2 separate regions of the Homo sapiens genome follow, and region 1 is linked to region 2. Evidence: fine-mapped expression QTL. A gene starts in region 2. The other region holds a variant in brackets. All regions are shown on one strand. Distances are between the middles of the regions. Region 1 overlaps RPA1 (replication protein A1). Region 2 holds the start of RTN4RL1 (reticulon 4 receptor like 1).

Region 1 (2,902 bases), 140 kb after region 2:
AAATAAGAAAGCAAACAGCCTTACTGCTGATATGGAGTAAGCTGTAGTGGTCTAGATAGAATATCAAGCAAGCCACAACATTCTCTTAAGCCAAAGCCTAACCCAGAGCAAGGCCTCACCTTTCTTCAATTCTGTGAAGGCTGAGAGAGGTCAGGAAGCTGCAGAAGAGGCCAGGTGCAGTGGCTCACACCTGTAATCCCAGCACTTTGGGAGGCAGAGGCAACATGATTGCCTAAGCCAAGGAGTTCGATACCAGCCAGGCAACATAGTGAGACCTAGTCTCTACAAAAATCTGTCAGGGCACGGTGGTGTGCACCTGTAGTCCCAGCTACTCCAGAGGCTGAGGTGAGCTGTGATTGCACCACTGCACTCCAGCCTGGGTGACAGAGTGAGACTCTGTCTCAAAAAAAAAAAAAAAAAAAGCTGCAGAAGAAAAGATGGCAGCCAGCAGATGTTGGTTCATGAGGTTTAAGGAAATAAGCCGTCACCATAACAAAAGTGCAAGGTGAAGCAGCAAGTGCTGATGGAGAAGCTGCAGCAAGTTATCCAGAAGATCTAGCTAGGACCACCAATGAAGGTGGCTGCACTCAACAACAGATTTTCAACGTAGACAGAATAGCCTTCTGGAAGAAGATGCCATCAAGAACATTCGTCCTAGAGAGTAGAAATCAATGCCTGGCTTCAAAGCTTCAAAGGAAAGGCTGACTCTCCTGTTAGGCGCGAATGCAGCTGGGGACTATAAGGTGAAGCCAGTGCTCATTGACCATGTCAAAAATCTTAGGGCTCATAAGAACTATGCTAAATCTACTTTGCCTCTGCTTTATAAATAGAATATCAAAGCTTGGATGACAGCATATCTATTTATAGTGTAGTTTATTGAATATTTTAAGCCCACTGTTGAGACCTACTACTCAGAAAAAGAGACTCCTTTAAAAATATGACTGCTCATTGACAATGCACCTGTTCACCCGAGAGCTCAATGGAGACACACAGTACGAGGAGATTAATATATTGACAATGCACCTGTTCACACAAGAGCTCAATGGAGACACACAGTACAAGGAGATTAATATATTGACAATGCACCTGTTCACCCAAGGGCTCAATGGAGACACACAGTACAAGGAGATTAATATATTGACAATGCACCTGTTCACC[C/T]GAGGGCTCAATGGAGATGCACAGAACAAGGAGATTAATATTGTTTTCATGCTTGATAACAACATCTATTCTGCAGCCCATGCAAATCAAGGAGTAATTTTGACTTTTTAAGTCTAAGAGACATATTTCATGAGGCGATAGTTGCCACAGTGATTCCTCTGATGGATCTGGGGAAAGTAAATTGAAAACCTGAAAAGGATTCACCATTCTAGATGCTATTAAGAACAGTTGGCTGGGCACAGTCGCTCACACCTGTAACTCCTGGCACTTTGAGAGGTTGAGGCAGGGAGATCCCTTGAGCCCAGGAGTTTGAGAGCAGCCTGGGCAACATGACACAACTCAGTCTCTACAAAAAATACAATTAGCCAGGTGTGGCAGCACCTGTAGTCCCAGCTTGGGAGCCTGGGGAGGTTGAGACTGCAGTGAGCTGTGATCAAGCCAGTGCACTCCAGCCTGAGTGACAGAATGAGACCCTGTCTCAAGTTAAAAAAAAAAGGAACATTCATGATTCATGGGAGGAGATCAAAATCCCAACATCAACGGGAGTTTGGAACAAGTTGATTCCAACCCTCAAGGTAGACACTGAGGCTTCAAGACTTTGGTGGAGGAGGGATCTGTAGATGTGACGAAAATAACGAGAGAACTAGAATTACAAATGGAGCCTGAAAATGGGCCTGAACTGCTGTAATCTCACGATCAAACTTGAACGGATAAGGAGCTGCTCCTTACGATGGGCAAGGAAAGTGCTTTCTTGAGATGAAATCTCTTGTGGTGAGAACGCTGTGAGCATTGTTGAAATGACGACAAAGGATTTAGAATTTGCATAAGCTTGGCTGATAAAGCAGTGACAGGACCTGAGAGGGAGAGACTCCAGTTTGAAAAAGTTCTCCTGTGGGTAAAATGCTGTCAAACAGCATCGCCGGCTATGGAGAAAGCTTTTGTGAAAGGAAGAGTCAACCAATGTGGCACACTTCACTGCTGTCTTATTTTAAGAAACTGCCAAAGACACGCCGATGTTCAGCAACCATCGCCGTGACTGCTCAGCCATCAACCCTGAAACAAACCCCCACCAGCAAGAAGATTACGACTCAGATGATTGTCAGCATTTTTCAGCAATAAAGTTTTTGTTTCAAGAGAAGGGGTCTTCCATGTTGCTCAGTCGAACTCCTGGGCTCATGTAATCCACCTGCCTCAGCCTCCTGGGTAGCTGGGATTACAGAGAACCGAAAGAGTGGGTGTCCCATGACAGGACAACGAGGATCTGTCCAGTGTTTAATTCTTGAGATGTTCTATAAGAGCACTTAAGAGCTGCTGTTGACAATGATGGATAAGGGTATACAGTGAAATGAGACAGGAGGAATGAAACCTACACTGTATATGATGAAAATAAAAGAGCAGGCGTAAAGGAGAAATAAATGATCTAAATACTAAACTGCTGGCAGAACACAGGCTTAGATCAAGATGGGAGGAGGGTCATTAAATACAAACACTGAAAGGAAAAAGCTGCAACTAAAAGTCAAATGTCAGGGCCAATCCTTGTCCGGGAATGCCGGCAGCTCTCAGCCTATGAGGTTAATACACTATTCTACAGCCAGGAACAGCACCCGTGAAACTGCCTCATGTCTGACCTGAGGCGGACTAACGCTCATCTCAAAAAACATCTTTTTGATATGTGGGCGCTTAAATTTGCAGGAAGGATCACAGGAAAGAAACGTGGACCCGAAAGCAGGTGATATTATACCAC
Region 2 (2,898 bases):
TGTTTGTTTTGTTTTTTTGAGACAGTCTCGCTCTGTCACCCAGGCAGGAGTGCAGTGGTGTGATCTCGGCTCATTGCAATCTCCATCTCCTGTGTTCAAGAGATTCTCCCGTAGCCTCCCAAGTAGCTGGGATTACAGGCGCACACCACCACGCTCGGCTAATTTTTGTATTTTTAATAGAGACGGGGTTTCACCTTGGCCAGGCTGGTCTCGAACTCCTGACCTCAAGTGATCTGCTCAGCCTCCCAAAGTGCTGGGATTACAGGTGTGAGCCACCGCGCCCAGCCTGGCCCTTTTTTTTTTTTTTTTTTTGAGACAGAGTCTCACTCTGTCACCCAGGCTGGAGTGCAGTGGCGCGATCTCGGCTCACTGCAACCTCCGCCTCCCGGGTTCAAGCGAGTCTCCTGCCTCAGCCTCCCGAGTACCTGGGATTACAGGCGCCTGCCACCATGCCCGGCTAATTTTTGTATTTTTATTAGAGACCGGGTTTCACCATGCGGGCCAGGGTGGTCTCGAACTCCTGACCTCGTGATCTGCCTGCCTCCGCCTCCCAAAGTGCTAGGATTACAGGCGTGAGCCACCGCGCCCGGCCCTGACCTTCTTTTTGACCTTCCTATCATGTCACCTTTTCCTACAAGGAGGGATTCAGTTGGATTTCTGCTTGGATGTCACCTGCTCAGAGCAGCTTTCCTTGACTGCCACCTCTACCCCCGTGTCAGCTCCAGAACAATACTCTGCTTGTTTTTCTTCGAAGCACAATCTTCCCATCTTCTCTGGACTTTCCTCATTTGGCCCCTATTAAAATGGAAACTCCTTGAGGACAGGGCAAAGACAAGTCTTTTTCGTCTGCTGAATTTTCAGGAACAGTAGTGCCCCACACATGCTGAGCCTTCGGTGAATGTGTGTTGAATGACAGCCTTGGTCCATCCGCTTTTTCTTCTCTCCGAATCCCTCTGATCCCAGGCCAGCAGGGGGTGCCGCCTCCACCCAGGATCTCGCCTGGCCCGAACCTTCTCTTCCCTCAGCTCAACAGGCCCCTGCGGGACCCGCTTTCCAAGCGGCGCCTCCTCCATTTTCCGCGAACCCCCCGGCGGGGTCTGTGTGGACCAAGGGAGATCAGAGACCCCCCGCCGCCACCCCACCCAGGCGGAGACGGCCCACCCGAACCCGCACGGGTCCTTCCTTCTCCCTGGAATTTGCAGCTGGCCCTTTCCGAATGCTTGCTCCCCTCCTCTCCCCACGAAAGAACAGTGTCCTGGGACTCGGGGTGCGGGGCAGCCGGGTTCGCTGGAGCTGTTCAGTGCGGGGAAGAGCCGTCGAGACTGGGAGAAGGGGCGCTGGCCAGGGAGGAGACGGGGCAGGGAGCGGACTCGCGATCCGTACTCTGGGCGGCGGTCCTCGCGTCCCAGCCGCGTCTCCCGATGACCTCCAGCCGCGAAGGGCGAGCGGGCGGGGGCTGGGCTGCGGGTTCGGGCTCCAGGAGGCCTGCGGGGCCGGGGAGGGGCGTGGAGTGGTCCGAGGACCGGCTTGGGGACTGGGGGCAGGTGCCTGGACGGACGCGGGCCGAGCATCTTCCCCGGGGGCGGGCGCAGTGAAAACACCTTGGGAGGCGGCGCCGCGCGGCTGAGCGCTGCTGCCTTGGGAATAGGACGGCGCTCGGCACTGCGAGCTGAGAGCACTTTCATAAATTTTGTATGGGAGGCGCTCCGTGAGCGGGGGCGGGGAGCGGAGCGAGAGGGAGGGAGCTAGAGAGCAAGGGAGGGAGGGAGGAGGAGAGGAGGGGGAAGCCGGGGGGAGGAAGGGAGGCGCCCCGCTCCGCCGATCGCTCGGTCCTGCAAACGCGCGCCGGGCGCTTTCCCCGGAGCTCGGCGGTGCGTGCGAGCGCCCTTTTGCTGCAGCCGCGGCGGCGGTGGTCCGAGGGGGCGGAGAGGAGGGGGCTGCGGCCGGCCGGCCAGGGGGCGGCGTCCCCCCTCAAAACCGCCTGCGAAGTGCTCCGGGTGGCAGAAGCAGGCCGCCGGCTCCGCGGAGCAAGCCGCTCGCCCCGGGGCTGAGCAAGCGCGCGGGGCTGCCGGGCAGCACCACGGTTGCTTGCGGGCGCCGGTGCCCTCGGCGCGGGGCTGGAGCTCACCATGCCCCTGCGGGGCCGGGCCACCGGGCACGAGCGGATCCCCGGCTTGCCCCCGCCTCGACGCGCTCGGATTAGCTGCAGCTGGCGCCCAGGGATTTGAATCTGGACCCCGGGAGGGAGTGCGCCTAGGCCGACCTCGGAGCGGCGGCCCCGTGGCCAACATGCTTCGCAAAGGTGAGTTGGAGCCGCAGGGGCAAGTTGAAGTTGAATGCGCTCCGGAAAGAGCCGCGAGCCCGGGCGCCGCCCGGCGCCGGGGCTCCCGGTCTGGGAAGTAGCCCCCGGCGGGCTGGTGGGTTTTGCCGGGCGCACCCGCCGAGGGGCTGCTGCTGGGGCTCAGCTCCCGTCAGCGGCCAGTTGTGAGACACGGGGTTTTCTCCATGGATCGAGTGGCCAGGCCTAGAGATCCGGCCCGGAGGGGTCAGTCGGAGACCAGAGTGAGCGGCCGGTGGTGGAAGGGGAGCCGGCCTCCTGGGACCTTTGCTTTGCTGGGATAAAGTTTTGCACTTGCAGCCTCCATTCCCTGCGCGGGCACACGCCCTTGCTTCTGCCGCTTTGTGGAGGCCGAGTCCGCACGGCGCCCCCGTGCAGCCAGCGGTCAGTGACCGCGCGGCCCGGGCGCTCCCCGCGCGCCCTAGCTCCCCAGACGGGGCCCGGACGCGGACGTCTTCTCTGCAGTTCTGCTCTGATCGCTAGGGATGGGCTCTGGGCACCCAGCGGCTGAGGGTGGGGAGCGGCCAGCGCCTGATGTCCAGTTCCTCAAACTTTCATTA

The links. PIP is the estimated chance that this variant, and not a neighbour inherited with it, causes the effect. A credible set is the group of variants that fine-mapping cannot tell apart.
Region 1: its variant is the best candidate, but not a certain one, in a credible set for the expression of RTN4RL1 in left ventricle (GTEx, PIP 0.66).

The regions. Positions count from the first base shown.
Region 1 is chr17:1,884,226-1,887,127 of GRCh38, reverse strand. All of the region lies in intron 13 of RPA1 (replication protein A1), which reads right to left. Among named protein-coding and RNA genes, the nearest start is that of RPA1, 56 kb to the right of the region's middle. The variant C/T (reference allele first, on the strand shown) is at 1,159.
Region 2 is chr17:2,024,257-2,027,154 of GRCh38, reverse strand. It overlaps RTN4RL1 (reticulon 4 receptor like 1), which reads left to right and starts at 1,821. Exons shown (of 2, transcript NM_178568.4): 1 at 1,821-2,302. The coding sequence starts at 2,290. RefSeq lists enhancers at 760-1,260, 2,429-2,898.